Homo sapiens: one gene and its partners. The protein of the gene in region 2 purifies or fractionates together with the protein of the main gene of each other region. This does not show direct contact. Each region holds a gene or a part of one and is shown on either strand. Other genes may lie near its edges. The genes, in order: ITM2C, EFL1, PEX7, TXNDC5, THUMPD3, LPP and ABCF2.

What was found.
Region 1: the proteins of EFL1 (region 2) and ITM2C purify together in Homo sapiens (co-immunoprecipitation; one large-scale study listed by IntAct). This does not show direct contact.
Region 3: the proteins of EFL1 (region 2) and PEX7 purify together in Homo sapiens (co-immunoprecipitation; one large-scale study listed by IntAct). This does not show direct contact.
Region 4: the proteins of EFL1 (region 2) and TXNDC5 fractionate together in Homo sapiens (co-fractionation; one large-scale study listed by BioGRID). This does not show direct contact.
Region 5: the proteins of EFL1 (region 2) and THUMPD3 fractionate together in Homo sapiens (co-fractionation; one large-scale study listed by BioGRID). This does not show direct contact.
Region 6: the proteins of EFL1 (region 2) and LPP fractionate together in Homo sapiens (co-fractionation; one large-scale study listed by BioGRID). This does not show direct contact.
Region 7: the proteins of EFL1 (region 2) and ABCF2 fractionate together in Homo sapiens (co-fractionation; one large-scale study listed by BioGRID). This does not show direct contact.

The regions. Positions count from the first base shown.
Region 1 is NC_000002.12:230,863,761-230,867,741, forward strand, and holds the start of ITM2C (integral membrane protein 2C), read left to right. Parts: upstream 1-1,181; 5' UTR 1,182-1,265; coding exon 1,266-1,385; intron 1,386-3,981. UniProt on the Homo sapiens protein: Negative regulator of amyloid-beta peptide production. May inhibit the processing of APP by blocking its access to alpha- and beta-secretase.
Region 2 is NC_000015.10:82,147,735-82,151,234, forward strand, and holds part of EFL1 (elongation factor-like GTPase 1), read right to left. Parts: intron 1-3,500. UniProt on the Homo sapiens protein: GTPase involved in the biogenesis of the 60S ribosomal subunit and translational activation of ribosomes.
Region 3 is NC_000006.12:136,843,092-136,846,591, reverse strand, and holds part of PEX7 (peroxisomal biogenesis factor 7), read right to left. Parts: intron 978-3,500; coding exon 900-977; intron 520-899; coding exon 411-519; intron 1-410. UniProt on the Homo sapiens protein: Receptor required for the peroxisomal import of proteins containing a C-terminal PTS2-type peroxisomal targeting signal. Specifically binds to cargo proteins containing a PTS2 peroxisomal targeting signal in the cytosol.
Region 4 is NC_000006.12:7,890,289-7,893,788, forward strand, and holds part of TXNDC5 (thioredoxin domain-containing protein 5 isoform 1 precursor), read right to left. Parts: intron 1,449-3,500; coding exon 1,333-1,448; intron 1-1,332. UniProt on the Homo sapiens protein: Protein disulfide isomerase of the endoplasmic reticulum lumen involved in the formation of disulfide bonds in proteins. Can reduce insulin disulfide bonds.
Region 5 is NC_000003.12:9,376,554-9,380,053, reverse strand, and holds part of THUMPD3 (tRNA (guanine(6)-N(2))-methyltransferase THUMP3), read right to left. Parts: intron 2,236-3,500; coding exon 2,166-2,235; intron 1-2,165. UniProt on the Homo sapiens protein: Catalytic subunit of the THUMPD3-TRM112 methyltransferase complex, that specifically mediates the S-adenosyl-L-methionine-dependent N(2)-methylation of guanosine nucleotide at position 6 (m2G6) in tRNAs.
Region 6 is NC_000003.12:188,160,657-188,164,156, reverse strand, and holds part of LPP (lipoma-preferred partner), read right to left. Parts: intron 1-3,500. UniProt on the Homo sapiens protein: May play a structural role at sites of cell adhesion in maintaining cell shape and motility. In addition to these structural functions, it may also be implicated in signaling events and activation of gene transcription.
Region 7 is NC_000007.14:151,214,095-151,217,205, reverse strand, and holds part of ABCF2 (ATP-binding cassette sub-family F member 2), read left to right. Parts: intron 1-1,176; coding exon 1,177-1,239; intron 1,240-1,473; coding exon 1,474-1,602; intron 1,603-2,123; coding exon 2,124-2,327; intron 2,328-3,014; coding exon 3,015-3,111. Other genes in the region: ABCF2-H2BK1 (ABCF2-H2B protein), read left to right, coding at 1,177-1,239, 1,474-1,602, 2,124-2,327, 3,015-3,111.

The DNA of each region.
Region 1 (3,981 bases), on a different chromosome or scaffold from region 2:
TCTTTCCCCACCTGTCTGTCCTCAAGGTTGCTAGGTTCATCCAAGATCTGAGCCAAGAGGTCCGGGTCTGGGACGTGGGCGCTAAGGGCCCAAGGCAGCTGCAAAAGACCTGAAAGGTGAGAAGAGAGATCAGTGGAGGACCCCGGACTGTCCTCAAGAAGCGGACGGACTCCCCTGCCCTCCACTGGCAGCCCAACAGCAGAACCAAAGCGGACCACTCAGCACAACCTGTGTGTGTTGCTGGGCGCTGTCCCTGGCCCAGTCTGGACCAGGAGCAAAGAGGAAAGATTCAGGGCGTTAGTGCCAAGAGCAGCCATCCCAGCAACAGAAGCCCCTGCTTCCCCAGTACCCGTGATACTTGGGAGGAGCAGAGTCTTGAGTGGAACCCGAGCCTCTGACACCCGCCCTGGGGGTCTTCCCTCCACTCTCGCCAGGGTCCTCCTGGATGAGTGAGACAAGGGCAGTTCAGGAGGTCACCCAATAACTGAGGTCGCAGCAACACGAAGGAGCCAGGGAGCAGGGGCGGCCTTCCCTTCTCCACTCCAGGCGGCTCCAGCGTGCACCCCAGGACCCCCCAGGAAGGTTTTGCAGGAATAAAGAATGAAGGCAGAAGCAAGATGGAGGATGAAGGAGGCGTGGATGGCTTCAGAAGGCAAGACGGAGGCAGCAGTTTGGCGCCTGTCTCAAAGCCTCCTCCCCGCGCCAAGGACAGGTCGGAGGAGGGGGGCGTGGGGACAGGTAGAGCGGAGGCTCCAGCGTTTCTAAAGGGGAAGACCTGAAGTGGGGCAGGAGAGACGGGTGAGTTGTCTGGAAGCTGCATTTGCCTGGCAAACACTGGGTTAACAAAGACTTGCGTTGCGGGGATGCTGGCCTTGGACAGGGAATGCGAAGGGATTATGCTACGGAGAACGGATCCGAGCGTGACGGCTGAATGAATGAGTGAGCGAGTGAGTGAGTGAGTGAGTGAGCGAGCGAGTGAGTGACTGTGCGAGCGAGCGGCAGAAGGAACTCCGACCCGCCCCAGGTGCGGAGCGGCGCGCCCGGCAGGGGTCACTGCGGGCCCCGCGGGCGGGAAGGGGGCGCAGGCGCGGCGGGCGCCGGGGCCCTCCCGCGGGGACGGGGCGGGGAGGGCTGGGGGTGGGGTTAGAGAGAGGGACGCGAGCGGGATCCAAACTTCCGGTGCCTGCAGAGCTCGGAGCGGCGGAGGCAGAGACCGAGGCTGCACCGGCAGAGGCTGCGGGGCGGACGCGCGGGCCGGCGCAGCCATGGTGAAGATTAGCTTCCAGCCCGCCGTGGCTGGCATCAAGGGCGACAAGGCTGACAAGGCGTCGGCGTCGGCCCCTGCGCCGGCCTCGGCCACCGAGATCCTGCTGACGCCGGCTAGGGTGAGAGGGTCTGGGGCTCAGGCGGTGGGGCGGGGGACCCAGGCTCACGACCCAGGCGCGCCCCGTCGGCCCTGGGGACTGCCCGAGGCGCGTCAGGGCCCCAGAGCCCGGGGTGGAGCAGGGTTGGGAAGTCTCGAATGGTTGCTTATCCCAGAATGAGGAGGGGGCTTAAGTCCCGTACTAAAGCGGCAGCCAAAAGCTGAAGTCCGAAGAGTGGGAGGCGTCTGGTTCTGGTCTTCAGGTGGAGAAGTGCTCGAGGTCTCTTCCAAAAGTGGGGGCCCCCTCGCCGCCTTATAGGGGGAGGGGGCTGGTCCGAAGAAGTTCGAGGAATGTTGGTGGGGGGGTACGCGTCTGGTTCCAATCAACTGGGAAAGCCGCGAGTCGAGTCCCCAGGTGGGGGATGGGAGGAGGGTTAGACGTAGTTTTTCCAAAGTAGGGCGGTGGGACCTGATTGGCTGGGGAATTGGGGGTGGGGGGGTCTGGTACCAACGAAGAGGGTGGGGCCGTTGATTTCCTCCGAAATTGGGGGCTGCGAGGGACAGAGGATGTGCTGCTGGCCTGCACCGGAATTGACAGACCAGAAAGTGATGAAATGGAAATCAGCCAGAACCGACGGCGCTGCGGCCTCTGGACGTCGGGGGTCCGAGGCCGGGTGCCCCCTTCCCACCCCACGCCCTGCCGTCTGGGCCTCCCTGCTCCCCTCTCTTTTCTCCATTCCCAGCCTCTCGCTGGGCTGTCCCCCGACCCCACGGGGAGGGCTCCCAACTGCCCCAGTGCCCTTGCATCCTGGGTCCCCGGGCTCTGTGCGCGTTCCCCCACCCCTGTCATCCCCCTCCCCTACCCCGGCTTCCTCCACTTTCCCTCTGGCCGGGGGGGAGAGAAGGCATTTCCGCCGTGGAAAACTGTCTGAGCTGCGTGCCTTGTGTCCGGGAAGGGCCCGCAGGGGGCAGAACGCGTGGCGGGCAGGGACAGGGAGGGAGGGAGAGCTGGCCCAGCCAGGTTTTATTGTGCCTGGCAAAGGTGTCTACGTGGGCGCCGCCCCCAGCGGTCTTGTGGCTTACCAAGCCCATGTCCTCCCCGCCTCCCCACCCCGCATTGAGGCAGGACTGAGAAAGTCTTTGTCCACTGCTTCCCCACTTCCAGATGCAGGCTTCTGAAGAGTCTTCCTGAACGCCTAGCCCCCTCCCCAGGTTTTGTGGCTCAGGTTCAGTCTTGCCTGGGGCATTAAGGGGCCTGCAGAGGATGACCTGGACCCTGGAGGAGGGGGCGCCGGAGAGGGCCGTCAGAGTTGGGTGTCAGCCTGGGCAGAGACCCTGAGTGAGGAATGCCAGGAGACTGAGAACCCCCTGCCCTTTTATGGTGGTCACTGCAGCAACCAGTGGCTCAGAGCCACAAGAGTTCAACAACCACCTAGGCGAGGTTGGGGGTTGCTGTGCACCCCATGAGAGCAGCTCCCCCCTTTTCATCTGAAGCTTAGGTGGAGGGGGCGCTCCATATTTGAAGAAGATGGTTCTGCAGCTTTAAAAGTTTGCAAGGGGTTCTTCAAGACTCCTTTTCTTTGGAAGGGAAGCTGCCCTCCACTCAGCCTGGGGAGGGGCAGGGATGGGGGCAGGAGGCAGCACGCTTGCCCATCTCTTTTCCTAGCCACCTCTTCCTGGAGATATTTGAGGAGGGAGGACCAGGTCAGACAGTGGGAGGGTGTTATTCCAACTCCATCAGAAGGTCCCCCAGATTTTGCAGGAGCGGCACATTCTCCAGCCGCAGCCTGCTGATGGCATGGGTTTGGGCAGTCTGACAGAGACCTGCATCTCGGGGCATAACTGACATCCTAGCTTCTGGCTTCTCATCAGGCTCTGAAATTGAGCGTCCTTTCTTCCCCCTCACCCAGCATGAAATGGAAATATCAACATCTTCCTGCGTGCTGTTTGTAATGGCCTTGAGCCTGCTGAGTACCTCCTCCCTCAAACTTTGTCAGTTGGGCAGGGTCCCCTCCCTCTCTAATTGGCAAGGGGGAGCTTAGGACTATGCGATCTGGGGAAAGAATTAGAATCCTGGCATCTTTAGGACAGAACTGCATGTTAGTAAACTTTCACAGCTTCCCAAGGCCCTGGCGTGGTGCAGAGGGACTTTAGGTGTTGCAAGTTGGCTCTGCCCATCACCTGCTAGATTTGGAGCCTTGGAAACAGTTCACTTCTGCGGGCCTCCTGTTGCCCCACTTGGCCAACCCGCACATTTCCTCCTTACCCAGTTTCTGGCAAGGAGCCAGGCCTCGTCTCCTGCCCCCAGCAGTGAGCAGGCAGGAGGCCCATTTCTCAGCTGTAGCTCTGTGAGCCGAGGGATGGCAGCCAGGAGGCTGCTTTCTCAGGGCAGGGCGTGTAGATTTTGTCCCGTACTGTTGGGAATGCCCAGGAAAGCTTATTAAAACGTTTCTTCTGGCTGGCAGTGACCCCAGAACCCTCCTTGGTGTCTGAACTGGACTCCAAAACAAGATTTATTTTATTTTATCTATTTTATTTTATTTTATTTTTTTTTTTGAGACAGAGTCTCACTTTTACCCAGGCTAGAGTTCCGTGGCACGATCTTGGCTCATTGCAAC
Region 2 (3,500 bases):
AAAATTCCTTTGCAGAGTAATGAGAGTCTAAAAGAAATCAATCATGAATGATCTCAATGACAGAAGAAGGAAGAAAGCCCCTCCTCAACCCCTATTTTAAGAGGACATGCACAGTAGAAGGAAGAAGAGGATACCAACTCAGGTGGATCAGTAGCATGTCCAAGATGCTCAAAATCAAAACAAGCTGAGTGTATGTACCAAAGTAAAAGAGCTAAAGACAGTGCAAAGAGCTTTTTCCAATACTGGTTGAATATCTCTTCTCCAAAATGAGTGGGACCAGAAGTGTTTTACATTTTTTATTTTTTTAGATTTTGGCATATTTGTATTATATACTGTTTGAGCATCCCAAATTAAAAAATAAAGGCTGGGCAGGGTGGGATTACGCCTGTAATCCCAGCACTTTGGGAGGCTGAGGCGGATGGATCATGAGGTCAGGGGTTCGAGACCAACCTGGCCAACATAGTGAAATGCCGTCTCTACTAAAAATATAAAAATTAGCCAGGTGTGGTGGCATGCGCCTGTAGTCCCAGCTATTCGGAAGGCTGAGGTGGGAGAATTGCTTGAACCCAGGAGGTGGAGGTTGCAGTGAGCTGAGACCATGCCATTGCACTCCAGCCTAGGTGACAGAGTGAGAATCCATCTCAAAAAAAAAAAAAAAAAAGTTTCAAATTTTAGATGATTTGGGATTTTGGATTTTCAGATTTGGGATACTCAACCTATACTTTCAAAATAAGGAGACATGTCTTGTCTACAACTTATAGAAACTAGTATCATGTTACAGAGGATAGCAAGAAAATAGGGGTTCGCAATACCTATGTTACCTATCTTTCTCTTCAGTGAGGAGAATGGTGAACAAACTATAGCAAGTGGAACAAGTTGAAGTGGGAGAACACTGAAGTTCACGGTAGCTCAGCAGTTGATGACTAAGTGCTTGGCCTTCTTAAATGAGTTCAAGTCTCCAGGACCAGAATTATATCTCACCATAATAAGAGAATTTGCCCTTTTGAGAAATTATGAATAGTAAGGTAGGTGCCAGACTATAGGAAAAAGGTAAATAATGACTAAACTTTTTGAGGATATAAACACTGCGTTCCATAAATTGCAGACTAGAAAGCCATATGCTAATTTTCTGTAGAATTTTAAGGAAACACTATAGACATTTGTACATGTTTATACAAGTATGAGGTAAATCTTGGGAGACAACATGGACTTTCTAATACAAAATACTAACCTAAGCTTTTTTTTTTTCTAACATGATTGGTAAGCTGATAATTGGGGGACTGTTATAGATGTAAAGGACCGTAACTTCATCGAAACATTTGATTTTCTACCTGTTGAGTTTTATTTCTCATCAGACAAGGACACATGAAAAAAATGAATAAGAAATCAATGTGTTAAGATGGTGGTGATGTGACTTCTTTTTCTTGCCATTAAAATTTTTCTCCTGTTTACTGTTGTAATGCTAATTATGTTATATAACTTAAGAAAAAAATTAAGTGTATAGACTCAGTACTCATAAGAAAAAAATTAAGTGTATAGACTCAGTACTCATACACAAATAAATATAGGAGTTCATACAACTACATGATTTCTACAGTCTAGTCAATTACCAAAAATTTGGATTCTGCTTTTTGGGGAACAGAGTGGGAAAACATAACTTTGTTTTGAAAAAAAAGAAATAGGGTTGATCTTGACTTCTCATATGAATTAATGAGAAGACGTAATTGTTAAATTTCATTAAAAGAAGAATGTTGTATTTCATGTAGGAGGTAACAGTGTAGACACAGACATGTTCTCTACTGGTTGGAGGGTATGTGAGGTGCTGTGTTCAAATATAGTTGCTTTAAGAGGGATGCTGACCAAATAAATTATGTCCAAAAGACAGCAACTGAAATGGTGAAAGGATACAGAAATCCTAACAGAAAAACAGGTGAAGGATTTGGAGTTTTTCTCCTGGATATAAAACTAGAAAACTAATGATTTATTTCAAATACATAAAAGAGTTGTTGCATGGAAGAGAGATGAATGGTGGTACAGATGATTGGAAACTAGCAGGTGACAGACATTTTGCTCAATATAGAAAAAAACACCATTAAATCACGAAGCTGGCTGTGCACTGGCCATCAATAGAAGTATTCAAATAGTGGTGGTATAAGCATTTGTCGGGGTAGGAGAGGCTGGAGAAAAGCTCTTAGGTCTTCTTCAAAGATTTGAGGGATTAAGATTTGATTTTAACTCTTACTTCCGCCTTAAGAAAGTTCTCAATGAAAATGAAAAATAGCATCTGAGAATAGTCTAGATTGGTGTTTCCCAAACAAATCTACAAATTCCATGGCTGTTAATAGGCATGCTATATTCAAATAAGGTTGAAAAGCACTGTATATGACATGCTGTATTTGGAGATTTGATTCACAATGCATACTGGCCTTAACCCAGCTATTTTTCAAATGCTGCTAATGACGCTCAGTCTCACAAAAACCTTAATGTGATGGAAGCCTAAATTTCTTTTGGGAAAAAAAACAAACAAACTTAGATTTCTGCTTTCAGGAATTAATCAGCAAAAGAACCTTCCTAAAAAGAATGTAATTAACCACATATTGACTCAAAGGGCCTCAGGGTTAGAGGAAACTTAATAATTTGGCCGATTCTCTCATCCAGGGCTCAATCCTCCTTTATATTCTCTTCACTACTGAAACAGTTCCATGATCTTGAGAGAATAAGAGAACTACTGTGTGCCAGGTGCTGTTCTGGGCACTGTATTTAAAAAAATTGTGTTATTTTAATCTTCACAATCTGTATGAATTATTATCCCCTTTCTTTACCTATGTAAAGAAACTAAGTCTCAGTGAACTAATACCAGTGAAAAGTCCAAAGAGCTACTAAGTGCCAGGGCTTCATGTCTCCTGGGATCTTAAAGGTTGCTTCTCCCAAAGAGAGAAAAATCAGGAATAGGATTTGATATAATGGTTAGCAGTGAATAAAGCCCCAAATAATTTTCTTTCTCAGAAAGAACCCAGAATTCACAAAAGCCCTTTTGTGTTATGAGTACAAGAATGTTGCCTTATTCTTTGATCATTTTCAGAACAACTTTGGTTACCCAGACTGATATGGTTATTTGCTTGAGATAAAATATGGCACAGGTTTGGATGGTAACACATATGAGCAGTTTAAACCTCATTTAGCAGACCTCTCATTACGGAAAGGATTCTATTTGTTGCAAAAGAAAAGATCTTTAGTAGTCATGTTTTTCCCCTCTCAAGATTTTAATACTTAAGATATCTGGCTTTCAAAGATCTTAGTTTGTTAGTAAATCAGAAGATGGTACAGCTTCTGCAAAACATACTAAACGAGTTTAAGATTTTTGGGTCTGCCAGGTGCAGTGGCTCACGCCTGTAATCCCAGAACTTTGGGAGGCCAAAGTGGGTGGATCACTTGAACTCAGGAGTTCGAGACCAACCTGGGCAACGTTGCGAAACTCAGTCTCTACAAAAAACACAAAA
Region 3 (3,500 bases), on a different chromosome or scaffold from region 2:
CCGCATGTTCTCACTCATAGGTGGGAAGTGAACAATGAGAACACTTGGACACAGGATGGGGAACATCACACACCGGGGCCTGTCATGGGGTGGGGGAAGGGGGGAGAGATAGCATTAGGAGATATATCCAATGTAAATGATGAGTTAATGGGTGCAGCACACCAACATGGCACACATGCACACACATGTAACAAACCCGCACGTTGTGCACATGTACCCTAGAACTTAAAGTATAATAATAAAAATAAAAAAATAAAAATAAAAAAAGAAGTAAAGTCTTAAGAACACAAAAGAATAGTAATATTCTCCTGTTTTCTCTCTGAAGCTAAGGTACACAGCGCCACCTAATGGTAAAAACAAGGCCACCATTCACTACAAGTAAGGCTTTTGGTAAATACAGAATAATTTACCTGAGGCTGAAGCAAAACAACCAGGGATGTGGGGAGACCAGATTGTGCTATAAATAATACTTTCATGGCCTCTAAAGGTGCACAGAGACTTTCCAACAGTTGGATCCCACTACAAATAAATGAATAGATCAATTACTTGAGGGATAAATTCAAATTTATGCTTTTACATATACTACATACACCAATAAACTATATACATTTATATATATGCATACAATATATATACAGATCTCAAGGATTTTTAAAGATCTGTTTTGATATAAAGCAAGACTGTATTTAAGGGCCAAACTAATGCTGAGCTAACTATTAGTTCACAGCCAAAAGATTAGAAAATTTTAAGTTCTAATAAGTGTTTTAATTTTTTTTTTAAAAGAAAGCTCAGCTGTCGAATCATAGAGCTACAGAAGTATGTTGGAAAAAGAGAAGAAAATTTAGTGGAAGCTCTAGAGAAGGGAATATTCGTTTTTGAATACAATAATGCTAACATACCAATTTGACAGTTTGATCCCATGAGCCAGACACCACAAGCTGTTCACCTCTGGTTTGGCTCCAATCAACACTATACACCTAAAAACATTGAAAAGTGTTTAGAAAGCAAAAGACCATCAAGTTCAACATTGCATTTTATCTCTTGTTACATAACAATGAGAGGCAGAACAACTAATTTACTATGTCAAAACATCAAATAATTCCTATCCATCTCAACAAGGTGTCTGAGAAATGAAAAGTTGATCTTGTCCATTCCTCCAGACTTATTCCTTACAGATAAGACTCCATTCTGCTTTCACAGAATTCTACAGTATACTTCCAAACCTTCTTCACTAAAACAAATTATACATATTTTAAAACCTACCAACAAATCACTGTTTGCAGCCCCACGAAGAAATGTCAAAGCAGATTAGAAAGTTAGTCATCTAAAAAAGCTTGCTGGGTCAATGTTTATTGGAAAGCATTAAAATTCAATTAATATCCCTATCTGGCCTTTCTTAGAAAAAGCTTGCAGGAACCAGGTGATCCTTCCAGATCTCTTGGTAAACAGTTTTAGTTATCCAATGCTGCTATTCTAAAGTATATGCTTCACTGCTCTCAGTGAACCATTTCAAATGAACTACTTGAAAACTTTTGGAAATGTTTTCATTCTTTCATTTTATACAACAGATTATACACAGATCACTGCTGTAAACTAAGTTCAACAAAATATGTGCATAATTATACTTTATGAAATTAGTCCTGACAAGGACCTGAGTATATGCCATTGGTATATCACATTGGTGATCAGCCAGCAGGTTACTTTGAATCTTACTACTCTCTCCCACATATACGTAGGAAGTATGAGTATCTGGGCTTAAGCCGCTTACATGTGGGTTACTTTCTCTCTGCTGCCCAGTACTATATTGAGCCATGTTGGAGGCTGAGGAAAAAAAACATCAGTAATACTGATCCCGTCACTTATAGGTGGAATCTAAAAAAGTCAAACTTAGAGAAACATACAGTAGAGTAGTGTTTGCCAGGGGCTGGGGGTGGGGGAAATGGGGATATGTTGGTCAAAGGATACAAACTTTTAGTTATAAGATGAATAATTTCTAGAGATTCAATGTACACCATGGTAACTATTATAAATAATAATGTATTACTGAATACTTGAAATTTGCTGAGAGTAGATCTGAAATGTTCTTATCTCACACACAAGAAAATGGTAACCATTCAAGTGATGGATATGTTAATTAGCTTGACTGTAGGAATCATTACTCAAGATATATTTAGATCAAAACCCTAAGCTGTACAACTTAGATTTTTCTTTTTTTTTTTCCAAAACAGGGTCTTGCGCAGTCGCCCAGGCTGGAGTGCAGTGGGCACAATCTCAGCTCACTGCAGCGATGACCTCCTGGGCTCAAGCGGTCCTCCCACACCTCAGCCTCCTAAGTAGCTGGAGTCACGCTTGCGTGCCACCACACCCAGCTAATTTTTTTCTTATTTTCTGTAGAGACAGTGTCTCACCATGTTCCCCAGGCTGGTCTCAAACTCCTAGGCTCAAGCAGTCCTACCGCCTCAGCCTCCCAAAGTGCTAGGTTTACAGGCATGAGCCACCGTGCCCAGCCTACAAATTTTTATTTGCCAATCATAATAAACCTGGAAAAAAGTTTAATAAAATTAATATTAAGCTTCAAAAAAAGTAAAATATCGATATTTTGTTCATAATGGGTTTTTTGCATTAATTTTTATTTTTAAAAACATTAACAAATTATCTTGATTATCAAGTTTTTTGGGGCCCCCTTAAATTGTGTACCTAGAGTGAGTGCCTCACACATTCTACCCTAGTCCTGGCCCTGCCTCTGCCCATATTCACGCAAAAGACAGAAGAGTAGTTGGAACACTAAAGGAAGCACAATCCAGCAACAGACAGCAGCTATAAAAGGAATAGAAGGGCCAGTGAAAACCAAAGAGCTGCTGTGGCCATCTGTTAGTTATGGATAGAAAAAAGGCTGGTTTGGAAGCAATCACTGAAGATCTTGAGAGCTAAAGAGTTTGATTTTATCCTCTAAATTTCGCCTACAAAGGACCATATAGTAAATGGTAAGTTTCTTCAAAAAAGGTACATTTCTTCTATAAAGGGCCATATGGTAAATACTTTAGATTTTACAGGCTATTTGGTCACTGTCACAACTACTAAACCCAGCTCTTATAGCACACACCAAGCAGCCATAGTCAATACCGAATGAATGCGCATGGCTTGATTCCAAAAAAACTTTATTTGTAAATCTAACTGCAGGCCAGATTTGGTCCTGGTCCACATGACGTAGTTTGCCAACCCCTGCTCTAGGCTGATGTAAACAGTCAAAAATAAAAATAGCAAACCTTTATTGAACACTCTGAGTGTCAGATCCTGTTCATAAGCACTTTATGTATTTTATTTCATTTAATCTTCATTTATATGAAGTAGATACTATATCAAGGCCCAGAGAGGTTAAGTAACTTGTCCAGAGTCCCAAAGCTAGTAAGGTGCAGATATGAAATCTGAACGTGGGCAGCCTAATTGCAGAGTCCACTTTTAATCGCAATGTGAGGCTATCTGTACAGCATGCTACTTGA
Region 4 (3,500 bases), on a different chromosome or scaffold from region 2:
ATGTCAGCAAACGGGGGTAAAAATACTATTTCAACACCTAAGACCCGTCAGAGAGCAGCTAAGGTGCGGAACTGAAGTACAAGAGGCCTCAGCCCAAGGTCGGGAGAGGACAAGCATTTTTAAGGGTCCAGTGTAACCCAGCCACATGTGCCAGGGATGAAGGGCTTCAGCGTGGTCACCTGGGCTTGTGTCTGCTCACGCCTAGGTCTGCTAGGATCCTCTATGGATATAAACCTAAAAGAATCTCCCATAAAATTTCATACAATAATTAAGTAAGGATACAAGGAATGGGGTAAGACAGTAGACAAGATTATTTTATAATTACTTCCCCGAAATGTTCAATAAATATAAACTGATAATAACATGTATAATTAGTATATATTATCGTAAGCGTTTAAGAGGCAACAGTGAAATATCCATTTAACTGACAACAAAAGTGATTACAATTTACCAAGCATCTGCCCCATGCTAAGCATCACACTAAGCAGTGTACTTTCATCTGCCCAGACACCACACAGTAGATCTTAGCTCAGTTTTGCAAAGGGGGAGACCGAGGCGTGGAGAGGTTTTTCCCAAGGTCAGCCAGCCAGGTCTACCCAACCCCCAAGTTTATGCTTTTGACCATCTCACCATCCCAAGTAGATCATCCTGTTAACCATCATTCAGTCCTAGACACGCAGCATTACTTTTGGATACAAATCAGCCCCATGGCAAGGTAGAAAAATGAGATTTTTAAGAAAGGAAATCTATGCATGGTGTCTGGTGGGTGCTGGAAAGTGTAGAAGAATAAAAGTGATGTCCCTGGAGCTACACTGGATATTTCCAGAAAATCCAGTTACACAGAAGTTGTCAGACACCACTCTTGGCTTCTCTGTATAAAGTAGGAAATGCTGGAAAGAATCCCAGGCACAGTGCAAACTGAGGGAGGGTCTTCTGCGTGCTTGGGGGAGCACAGAGCCAGGGTCCTTTTAGAGAGAGCTCTTGGGTGAGGTCGAACGTGGACGGTCTCCAAGTTCGTCCAGTGAACATTCTACAAGGCTCTACCCCATCTCTTTGCAGAACGGGCTCTGGGGCTGCCAATTCAGATTTGGCCATCTCTTCAAAATAAACAAAGCAGCCGAGGCCATAATTTATCTCTAGGCTGTGGAAAAGCCAGCAAAACTCAAAATCAGACTGCCATCTGTGAAGGTGAAATGAATTATCAAGTGGCACACTAAATGGAATTAATAAATCAAGTTTGCGACTTTGCACACGGAATGAATAATGGGCCACTCTGCTAATTAATCCAGCCCAAAGCAGTCCATTTCCAGTTTAATAAGGGCTTTCACTCACCTTGCCAATCTTGACAGTTTCGGAATGTTCAAGGCCCAGAGCCAGCTGCTCCCAGGTTGGAGCCAGGGCTTTGCAGTGACCACACCACGGAGCGAAGAACTTGATAAAGTGGTCGCCTGGAGTGGAGAGCCAAGGCAGAGACGGGGGAAAGAGGAACTGTAATTTATGTCAGACCTCACTAGAGAGTTAATTGAAGAATCAGATCTTTGTCCTGCTTAGCAAATCTTAGTTCGGCATGAGCACTTTAATTGGTACAAAGGGACTCCATCAAATGTGTTTCTGTTCATGACTTCATAACAATACTCAAAACCAAATTTGTCATCTTTGATGGACAATCAGCAATCAACTCATTATTTGGAAAACTGTAATAAAAGGAAAGAATCAGGCATTTCTCCCACCTCTCCTATATGCACTGTACCGCTGAATAACCAGGTGATAAATGAGGGTGAGTTTCTCTTGGTTAAAAAATGAAGGGACGCTTGAATGAGCCTCGGCACTTGGCAGCCCTAAGGAATGGACGGACCCAGGCTCTGCCTGTCATGGTCGACCACATCCCAAAGAGAGACAACTGGACGTTCTGTGCCCCCACCAGCTATGAGGTCTTCTTGTGCCCCCAAAAAACATCACACTGAAACTGATTTTGTCCCCAGACCCAACTACCAATTTCCAGGAAACAGAGAAATCAGGGAAACATGTAGACCACACTACGGGGACACAATTAGCAAAGTCTGGACCACGGGGAGCTCTACAGGTCAAACCACCTATGTCTTCAGCAAGAAAGATAAAGAGATGTCTGGAGAACATGCAGGTTAAAAGAGCCTTAAAAGATATATAAACACATACACATATAGAACTATAGTGCTCAGGAATGTGCACTTCAGTGCACATAAAGGAGTTGATATGGTTTGGCTGTGTCCCCACCCAAATCTCATCTTGAATTCCCACATGTCGTGGGAGGGACCAGGTAGGAGGTAACTGAGTCACGGGGACAGGTCTTTCCCATGCTGGTCTCGTGATAGTGAATAAGTCTCATGAGATCTGATGGTTTTAAAAACGGGAGTTTCCCTACACAAGCTCTTTTTGCCTGCTGATATCCATATAAGATGTGACTTGCTCCTCCTTGCCTTCCACCATGATTGTGAGGCTTCGCCAGCCACGTGGAACTGTGAGTTCTCCATTAAACCTCTTTCCTTTGTAAATTGCCCAGTCTCGGGTGTGTATTCATCAGCAGTGAAAACGGACTAATACAAGTGGTTTCCACAAATGTCAGGCAAGTGCCTTCTTGGAGAAGGGAGGGCGGGCTGTGCCCTGCATGGGACACGGGAAGCTGGCAGTTTTATTTCTTGAACTGGACAGTAGTTACAGTGTGACCACGCTATAAAAATTCATTAAGCCCTACATTTGTTTTCTCGATCTGTATTATATTTTATCATAAAAAAAAGTTTAAAAAATGAAACATCACCCCCTTGGCTACGGGGAAAAAAACAAACAAACCCTCACAGCATCATTATTTGGACACAGAAGGTGTTTAGCTGTTCTACCCTGACATTGGGCTGATACCAAACTGAAAGCAGGCTGTGGCCGGGGAGAGAACTAACCAGTGGCATGTGGCCTGGCGTCTGAGCAGGACTCTGCCACACTAAGGCTCACAGCTACTGTCTCATCAGCACAGCAACAATGCACTTGAAGAAAATGGTGAAAAACTTCCTTTAAAAGTTAACAACTTCCATTAAAAAATGTGCAAAGCTGAAACCATGTGCAGGTGCACAGTAGATCCTGCACTGTAAGGTGGAGACAGGCTCTCTGGGAACCTAATCAGAGTACTGATGGGAAGCCAGCAAGGGCAGGAAGCCACCATGGTACCTACACGACACAGCTGTGTGGCAGTGACCCACTTAGGGAGGCGCTGGCTAGGCCTGCCGGAGTCGGTCTGTCCTGCCGGAGTCGGTCCGTAACAGGTGATTTGGGAAACACACCCTGCTCAGAGCCCAAGACAATCCCAGCTGAAAATGCATTCCCGTAGCGGAAAGCATGCTAGAGTTCTGCCGTCAGGGCGCTGGTATGGATGAAATAACTTTTAGCAAAAGTGGGAAAAGGCTGAAGGCCTCACGATAAGTTACTGTGGACAGTAAGTGTGGTGGGGGAGGGGCTCTGACTCCCAGCAGGCA
Region 5 (3,500 bases), on a different chromosome or scaffold from region 2:
TTGTGGTTGTGGGAGTTTACATAATCTGATATATTTGAAAATTGCAAAATAAAATGCTATTTCCGGCCGGGCATGGTGGCTCACACCTGAAATCCCAGCACTTTGGGAAGCTGAGGCAGGAGGATTTCTTGAGCCCAGGAGTTTGAGACCAGCCTGGGAACATGGTGAAAGCCCATCTCTACAAAAACACAAAAATCAGCTGGGTGTGATGGTGTGCACCTGAGTCTCAGCTACTCGAGAGGCTGAGGTGGGAGAATGGCTTAAGACAGGGAGGCAGAGGTTGCAGGGAGCTGAGATTACACCACTGCACTCCAGCCTGGCTGACAGAGCAAGACCCCAGGTCAAAAAAATAATAGTAAAATGCAATTTCCTTTGTATGATAGGCTTTTGAATGGTAACCACCATATCACTGGAAGGATTTTGTAATTATAAATAAAAAACCTGTCAGCAGAACATAAATACCAAGCTGTCACATGTCATTTGTGGAATGAGGTGACGTGACCCTAGGCCTGAACAATGTTCTATGCAGATTAACAGAAGGTTTCTGACACGAAAGCCGGGAAAGGTCTGCCTCTGCTTAGGGGTGAGTAGCAAACACCTTTGTGTTCCTTTGTGAACAGTAACATACTTCTCATCCATGAGTGCAGTGTTTCATAACTTTTTCTTTTGCCCAGACACTTGAGGGTGATAACATACCCTGTCTACAATCCTACGATGACATCAAACAAAAGGGAAGTTGAAGTATCCCAGAATTTTGGGTGGGTGGGGATGTAGAGGGGACCTAGAGTTTGAGGAAGGCTCTCAGTGATTCCGATTCCCAAATATTCTTTTTTTTTTTTCCTAAACCTATTTGGATTTTCAGCATTGGAAAGAATTGGGTTTTATAGCATAACACTTCTAAATTAAAAAAAAAAATTATTCTAGATCAAGTATTTTATACTTTGGTGAACAAATCTTTATATATACCTTGTCAATTTATTCATAATTTTATTCATTTTGATCATATATCGGCTTAGGTTTTTCTACATTGACATCTGCATGTCTACTCTTACATGGAAATGGCTCAAACTTCATGTTTTAATTTTTTTCGGCCTTTATTTTTACTCGGAGCTCTGTTGTGTATTTCTTGACATGCGGTGACCTTACCTGCTATTTCATACACATATCATGATTTCATACTAGAAAACAACACTCTGCTTTCTTCCCAGAATCCTTCTTGGCCACAAGAAGGACTGGGTTTTTACTGTGCAGTCTCTTTAAGCCACAGTAATTTCTCTAGCTTTCACGGAACACAGTCACATGTAGACTTCTATGATTTCAGTCTTGGATTTTAACTCCCAGAACAGATACCATTTTCTAATTACAGTTTGGATTATTTCTCCCCTTGTGGGCTTGCTTTGGACTTGCTCATCTGTCCAGTTTCTACCCAATCATATAATCTGCTGTGTCTCCCTGCAGTTTATTCAAATTGGCTGTCAGTATACTATATGGAAGAACTACTATGTTTCACACAAACTTCAGTGATTTTACTGGGAGCTCCCTCTTCTAAATTCTTTAAAAACATATAGATGATACTGATTATTCAAGGGGAATCTACTGTGAAATATTCTCCATTTAGAAAATGCCTTTCCATTTCTTGCTTTGCTTTACACAGTTTTTATGAGTCCTCTCAATATCATGGTAATTTTGAAAACTAAGAGCATTTGGTATTAAGCTTGTTAGACTTCCTAAAAAATCCAAGTAATGTTCATAAGTTTCCCCTTTTTACAACTATACTTATTCCCTCTAGGAACTTAAGTGGATTACAGAGAAGAAAATTGCCTTCCTCCAGTTTATGCTTATGCCTTCAATTATCTTTTCCCATTCAAGTCTACCAGCTTGTCTGTTACACAAAGAGGACTCATCGGCAGTTTGTAATTCTCAGCTTCCTCTGTAATCTAGTGAATAGATGTCACTAACAATGTATCTAGGCCAGTGGCACATGGCTCTTTGAAATAAGTAGTTACATTCTTTACAAAAAAGTTCCACTTTCTATTGTTAATTGTTTTAAAACTCTTGGGTCCACTGATCCAACCATGGAGATTTCATTATGTCTAATTTGCCCATTAGGTCTAGAATATTCTGGATGTATCACTCTTATCTAAAAGCTAAAGAAATATGATTACCTCTATTGGTATTGCCCCAGTTCCACACATTGGATCGACTATTATATCATAAGGTAGAGGATCACAGAGCCTAGAGAAAAGAAAACAGCCTATGTGAAGACTCACTCAAAAGCTGAGGCTTCTATACTGATGATTCCTGAAGCTTTAAGATTGAGGACCTACCACACTAGCCCGAAGGAACACCAATCTACACATATTTTAGAAATCAATTTGTGGCCGCGCACGGTGACTCACGCCTGTAATCCCAGCACTTTGGGAGGCTGAGATGGGTGGATCGCTTGAGGTCAGGAATTCAAGACCAGCCTGGCCAACATGGCGAAACCCCGTCTCCACTAAAAATACAAAAAATTAGCTGGGCGTGGTGGTGGGTGCCTGTAATCCCAGCTAGTACAAAGGCTGAGACTCGAGAATTGCTTGAACCCAGAAGGCGGGGATTGCAGTGAGCCAAGATCATGTAAGATGCAGCCTGGGTGACAGAGCAAGACTCCGTCTCAAAAATAAATAAATAAATAAATAAAATCAATTTATAATGATATGTTGACTGTATATTCCATTACTTGGGGAAAAAAAATCCTTATAACTAAATCTCCTTTGACTATCTTCCAAAATCCCATTTCACTCTCAGATGAAATTTAGTTTGCAGACATCTTAAAGTACACATGTGTACACACACACACACACACACGCTCATGCATACTTTTTGACAACAGTGTTGTTTTCAACAGAAACCTGTATTACATTAAAAAGACTCAAAAATGTCTCAAGTCAAACATGCATCAATATAAGGTTACTGGCAATGAGACATTCAGTATTCCTTTCCTTCTGAATTTAAAGCTAATCTTGATATAAAAAAATTGCTCTGTGGGACTAGGTAATAAAAAAAGGAAAAAAAAATGCTTTACTTTGAGCACTTAGTATTTCCTGGGCATGGACTTAAGCTCTTTCCATGCATTATCTCACAGAATCCTCAGTAAGGACCCTGTTAGATAATTATCATTATTCTCATTTTAAAGGTAAGCTGATGCAAGGAAACATGAAGTTACCTGCCCAGGGACACAAAACTAGTAGGTAACAGATTCAAGATTAGAGGCATTACTGTTAGTGGCTTAACTGTTATCCTCTTTATGAAGCATCCCACCCTGAAACAGGTCAGTAGGTTTCTTCCCTTCTCTTGTTCTTCTAATCTTTTCATGTGCTGGTGTGGGACTTATCGCATGTATGATAACTATTTATCTCCCTCACAAGACAGATTCTTGGGGGTTAATAGTGGGTTCTTATTGTAACATTGGTCCTGCTCTATCTCCTTGCTCCTACTCCTCAACACATGGCAATAGA
Region 6 (3,500 bases), on a different chromosome or scaffold from region 2:
CAAAAGGCTCCAGCAATTCACAAGTCCATCAGTCCTTCACATGCGCCTCTCCCACGGCACTCTCTTATATTATAGATATACATTAACATGATTTTATCAACCCTCATAAATAGTAAGTGCTTACGATCTTGACATACCCTTCAAACAAACTTAAATTCCACTTCTATAAATGTAGTTTATTCAGCAGACTTTTTTTTTTTTTTTTGGAGACAGAGTCTTGCTCTATTGCCCAGGCTGGAGTGCAGTGGTGCCATCCTGGCTCACTGCAACCTCAGCCTCCTGGGTTCAAGCGATTCTCCTGCCTCAGCCTCCCGAGTAGCTGGGATTACAGGCGCCCACTACCACACCTGGCTAATTTTTTTTTTTTTTGTATATTTAGTAGAGACGAGGTTAAATCATGTTGACCAGGCTGGTCTCAAACTCCTGACCTCACGTGATCCACCCAACTCAGTCTCCCAAAGTGCTGGGACTACAGGCGTGAGCCACCATGCCTGGCCACTCAGCAGACATTTCTTGAGCACCTAGCACCCCCTCTAACAAAAACAGTGGATGTTTGTTGAGTCCTTGCCTTATGCCTGGCCTTATGCACATTATTTACACTACCTCACTCAATATTCACCTATAAGTAGGGTGACCATATAACGTATCCTCCGAATCAGGACACCTATGAGAGTAAAAAGGAACACTACTGATACCACTGAAGTCCTCTGCAAGTTGACAGTTGCGCTGCTGGGTGGTGGCCTGAGTAATTAAGGGACACTAACAATGGCTTCAGCAGGAAGGGTGCATGCTGGAGGCAGGTCAAAGCATCCTCCTTTAAGGTCAGTGACCCTGCCCTGTCCTGATCCTCATGCTTATCCAGCCCATGAAAGGTTCCCACACAAGTTTCTGAAGAAGACCTGGTTTCACCTTCAACACCAGCTTTCCATTTGAACTACAGAGGGATCTCCAGCTATGATGCAAAGTCACAACACAAGCAATTACAACAGTAGAAGCAGACCCTCCACGGGTAACAGATACAAACAGTGCAAACAAAACCCAAGAGAAGGTGGGATGGTGGCAGTGGAAGAAGGGACACTGCACAGCCATCCACTGGTGACAAATCAGCGCACAACCTGGAAATGCCCGTGAATGTCTGTGGCACTCATCCCACTTTTGCGGGCACACTATACTCAACTGTGGTGACCTCATTAATAAGAGATCTAAAAATGAATACGTGGAGAAAACAAATAGTGCCTGTGACCACCAAGGGAGCACCCTGTATTAAACAGCACAACGAGGACTTGAACTAGGAGTTGTCTAGGTCTAAATCCTTTCAGCCCCACAAGCACAGTAAGGTGTCATCACTGTGTGCCAGATGCCCCGCTGGGCACCCAGAATCGGACACATGTACAGACTGCATTACCACTGACAAAGCGCCATCACAGAAATGCCCCTGATTCTCACAAATGCATTGTGATAGATCACAGGATCTCCATTGAAAGGTAATTTAGGCTCAGGGATGTTCCAGAACTTGTTCAAGATCACAGGGCTTGTGGTTAGCCCAAACATAGGTCTTTGTTTTCCCTACACCAAAAATCACCACTATTGCCAAAATGATCCGGTATGGTGAAGCCCAGATCTTTGAACTCCCTGTCCCAAATCTGATTTTTAGTCTTGCCTTCCAAAGCCTTGAATATAGTCACCTAATGCTACTAATTAGTACTAGTGAAATAATAATAACTACTTCTCACCTGTGTAAAGGGCTTGCAGGGATGTTCACATCAACTATGCTCATTTGCAAAAGTTAAGGAACAAGACAGGAGTTTTGGAGAGGGGGGTTTGATTCTCACTCTGCCACTTAAGGCCCTGCACCCCAGTTAGGAAAGTTTTATGACCCTTGAACTCCCGACCAATATCTGCAAGATAAGACTGATCTAGCCAACTTGTCTCTTGCATTATATTTGGGAACAAAGTAATACAAATGATTATAAAATGTATTTGCTACATTAAAAGTGCTATGAAGGCTATGAAATACTCATGGTTTCTGTGAGATACATTGTGATGGGCAGGTTCAATAGGGAAGACAAACACAGGAGGATCTACCTTGTAATGGATCTAAAACTATTGCCTAAAAACTTCTAGGCAAGCAAAAATAAGTAAATATTAATGGAGAATGGTAGAGAGCAGGGGCAGGGAGCTGTCAAAAGCAAGGAACCTTGATATTAGCATGGAAGCATAGCTTGGTTCTCACAAACAAGCATCAATGGCAGCCATCCATGGCAGTTACATAAATAAATCGCCAGACCACACACACTCAAACTGAACCATCTTAATCTGATTGCTTTCTAAGTATGAAGCGCAAGTTTCAAGCCTAAGATACCATAATTTCCAAGTTACATCCTCTCCTAAAATTCTCCAAAGCAGAGAAACCCCTAGTGGAGGGTGGAGTGGGGAAGGAAGGTGTGAGGTACAGCAGAAATTGAGAATGAAAAATACCTGGAAACAGGGCTGGCCTAGGAGTAAAGGCTGTGACCCAACTCCACTTCAGCTGACAAGGGTGTGATTGAGCAGCTCTGTCCCTTTTCTGGGGCCTCAGTTTCCTCATCTGTATAACAAGGGATCAGCTCACTCTGGCCAAGAAGGCCCCAGTCCATGCTTGGCTGGCAGCTTGCTGCTTCTCCTGTTGACTACAAACTTTGGTGTACATTAAAAAAATTCTTTTCCCCAGCCAAGATGGATAAGCTGTCAAACAATTAGAAGGACAAAAGTAGGAATTAAGCTACCTGATATTATTCTAGCAGCAAACAGTTTCTGGAATCCATTTTTCCCTCCGTACGCTGCTGACCCGATACAGGCCCATTTCTCCTGTCCTGGAATACTTCAGCAGCCTTCTAAGCTGGGACTCTGCCTCTGGTCTTAACCTGCCCTCAGTCTGCCACCAGAGCTCTTTGAAATACAGATCCAACAAGGCCCTCCTTTGCTCAAAATATAATAATAATAAAAGCCTTCCTGCTCCCTCCCACCTCTGCCATCATCCTTAGCTTGGCCCATCAGCTCTTTATCAACTAACCCTCCCTAGCCAGCCCCATCTCCCACAGTGATCTCCAAACACACATTTATATTCCTCAAATACTTTTAGGCCTCAGGCCTGTGCACATACACCAAGGTCCCTATGGCTAGAAAGCTCTTCCACTCCTATCCACCATGTAAACTCCTATTCACTTCTCAAAACCCAACCAAATGTCTTCTTTTCCATAGGCATTCACCAGTTCTTCTAGATGATTGGTCACTCCTTTCTCCATGTTCCCATTAGCCCTTTGCTCATTACTTTATTAGAGCCTTAGCATCTTCTCTTTCAGTTTCTTTCCTATGATAGAAGGAAGACTCTGGAAGGCAGAGCCTATCTCAGTTTTCTTTGTAACCAGTATCTAGCATTTCTGCCTGGCATACAGTAATCACTTTGTACACAAGTACCGAACTCAATACATGAAATTGAGTTGTATCTGATCACAGATACG
Region 7 (3,111 bases), on a different chromosome or scaffold from region 2:
GTTCTTGTCTTGTTCCCTGGGTTGTGGGATGGGCTCCAGCTGCCCATGATCCTAAACTTGAATAAGCAGGTTGGAAAATGATAGAATGAATGAATATAAAATATTGTAAAAGAAAAATTCATAAAGTTTATGATAACCATACAAATGCAGTCAGCAAACCAGCCACATTCGTGATTATTTTTTAACTGTGTGGTGGTAGGAGGTGCTCCTTACAGTTTTCCCTTTGCAAACATTTATTCCTTGGTTTAACCCACCACTCTTAAAATTGCCATCACTCACTGATTCACCAAAAATTGGGTAAATATCTTACCTTGTTTTTATTAATCTTTCTTAAGTGTATGTATAGCTCACATGTATTTTGATGTTGAATATTAGAAGTGACTGGGTTTTTTGGCCAGGTGCCGTGGCTCACACCTGTAATCCCAGTGCTTTGGGAGGCCGAGGCAGGCAGATCACTTGAGATCAGGAGTGTGAGACCAGCCTGGCCACATGGTGAAACCCCCTCTCTACTAAAAATGCAAAAAAAAAATTAGCCAGGTGTGGTGGCGGGTGTCTGTAATCCCAGCTACTCCAGAATCTCTTGAGCCTGGGACAGAGAAGTTGCAGTTAGTCGAGATCTCGCCACTGCACTCCAGCCTGGGCAACAGAGCGAGACTCCCTCTTAAAGAAAAGAATCTTTGGATCTTTATTTAGAAGTTTGGTGATCTTTTTTTGTGACCAAAAATGCTGCAGGAACCTAATTCTTGTTTATATCAGTTAGCCTGTGGCAAAATTAGTTTTGCTATATGTTGTTTCACTTAAAGTGAAACTTTAAAATAGGTTCTGTTTCTAAGAACCTATCGATGACAGTGACAACTTTGAGGACTTAACTGTTTTTAATTTTAGAAAATGTATGTTGCACCTACATCCAAGTCCTTTGTTATACAGCATAGTGCATTCAGTAGACATTTTATAACTACTTAAATTGTATCTTTGCCTCTTGAGAACATCTGCTTCAGTACATCTTCCTAAATATTTTTAGAGTGGCCAGAATAGCAGTGTGCGAGTTGGTGATGTATTCTTTTTAGGAAGTTGAGTCTTGTTCAGTGTGAACATGTGTTTGTTTGCCTGCTCTGCCTATGTTTCTAACTGGGCTTCCTTTGTTTCATGCTTACGTTTCTACTTTTTTCTTCCTAGCTACTACCCACAGATGGCATGATCCGAAAACACTCTCATGTCAAGATAGGGCGTTACCATCAGGTACAGGCCTGGGGTTGGGATCCGGGGAATTGCCCAGGGTATAGGGAGGGGCTGTATCTGGCTGAGTTCCAGCCAGCCGCCCCCACCCCCTGGCAGGAATTCCAGCCTAGGTGGCTCCTACCTGCTTCTTGAACCCAGAACAGGTGCCTGGGATAGAAATAGGAAGTTACCTAGTAGGGTTTATTTTGAAGCGGGATGCCAGTCACACCCGGGTGGCTTCCATTTTTCCTGTAGCATTTACAAGAGCAGCTGGACTTAGATCTCTCACCTTTGGAGTACATGATGAAGTGCTACCCAGAGATCAAGGAGAAGGAAGAAATGAGGAAGATCATTGGGCGATACGGTCTCACTGGGAAACAACAGGTCAGTAAAGGAGGGTGTGGTGAGGATGCCAGATAGCTGGCAGACTGTGGCTGGGTGGGTCAGGGGATACTGTCCTGGCAGCCTGGGTTTGGAAGCTGTCCAAACCAGAGTCTCCTCCATTTGACTCCCCTAAGAACCTACTACCTTTTCTTTACTCTAGGTTGTTATGTAATGGAGCATTTTGAGGGGGCAAGGATAGCGTGCCAGTCTCTGACATGCCCTTGTGCCATAGTGCTTGAGGGCAAAGGAACTTGTAATCTAGAAAACAAATTTCTGGATTCAGATCTGGAAGGATCCAATTCATTGCCAAGAGAGCGAGAGGTGTGGGCTTAGTAATGGCAAGGGCTTCAGGTTTCCGGATGAGTCTCTTTCAGGCCTCAAGAGACTAGTGGGTCTCTCTGAGCCTCACTTTTTATAAATGGCGATGCTAATGGAGGAGTCAGGGAGAAATGAGGGAGAGATGAGCTGTGCTGTTTGGCGGGGATAATGCCAAGTTATATGTAGGTCACGGTTCTACTCAGGTGAGCCCAATCCGGAACTTGTCAGACGGGCAGAAGTGCCGAGTGTGTCTGGCCTGGCTGGCCTGGCAGAACCCCCACATGCTCTTCCTGGATGAACCCACCAATCACCTGGATATCGAGACCATCGACGCCCTGGCAGATGCCATCAATGAGTTTGAGGGTGGTATGATGCTGGTCAGCCATGACTTCAGACTCATTCAGCAGGTGAGGCCCTGGCCAGGGGGTGAGGCACAGCAGAGCTTCTAGGGGGTTGGGTAGGGTAGTCATGGCATGTGGAGGGTGCATAATACCCGCCTACTGAATTAAGAGAAGGGGCTCAGAGTGTAGACACAGGTGGTGAGGACCAGTTCTTATGCCTCTTTGGGGCTACTTAGAAAGCCTTAACTGAAACACTTCATTTCTTCAGTAGCTATCTGGAGATGTCAACCAACTTAGCATTTTGGGCCCAAATGGGAAAGAGAGTTGGGTAGAAAACGGTGCTTTTACTACTGTCCCAAGATTCTTCAGTCCAAAAATAGTATTCTAAGGAGGATTTTGATTAGACAGCTACCACAGTCATTTGAGAAAAAGTTGTTGCTCATTCCTCTGAAGCTCTGGGGAAGATGAGAGGTGGAGAAAAGAAGGCTGAGAGTGAAGCCTCTGAATAGATCTAGGCCCTGCCAGGGAGCTGACAATAGGAGTGACACAGCAGTTCCTGGCTTGGAAGGCTCCAAACCTGATGATGGTACCCTTGGGTTAGAACATCCCAAATAACTTAGAAGTAGTGAGACAGTGAGTTGGATATGGGTTTGGGGGGCGGAGTTTTCTTCCTAGACGCCCCTCAGGACAGTCTGCTGGGCAGAGGCAGGGACAGTGACTAGCCCAGGATTAAGTCCAGGTTTTGCTTTCTAGGTTGCACAGGAAATTTGGGTCTGTGAGAAGCAGACAATCACCAAGTGGCCTGGAGACATCCTGGCTTACAAGGAGCACCTCAAGTCCAAGCTGGTGG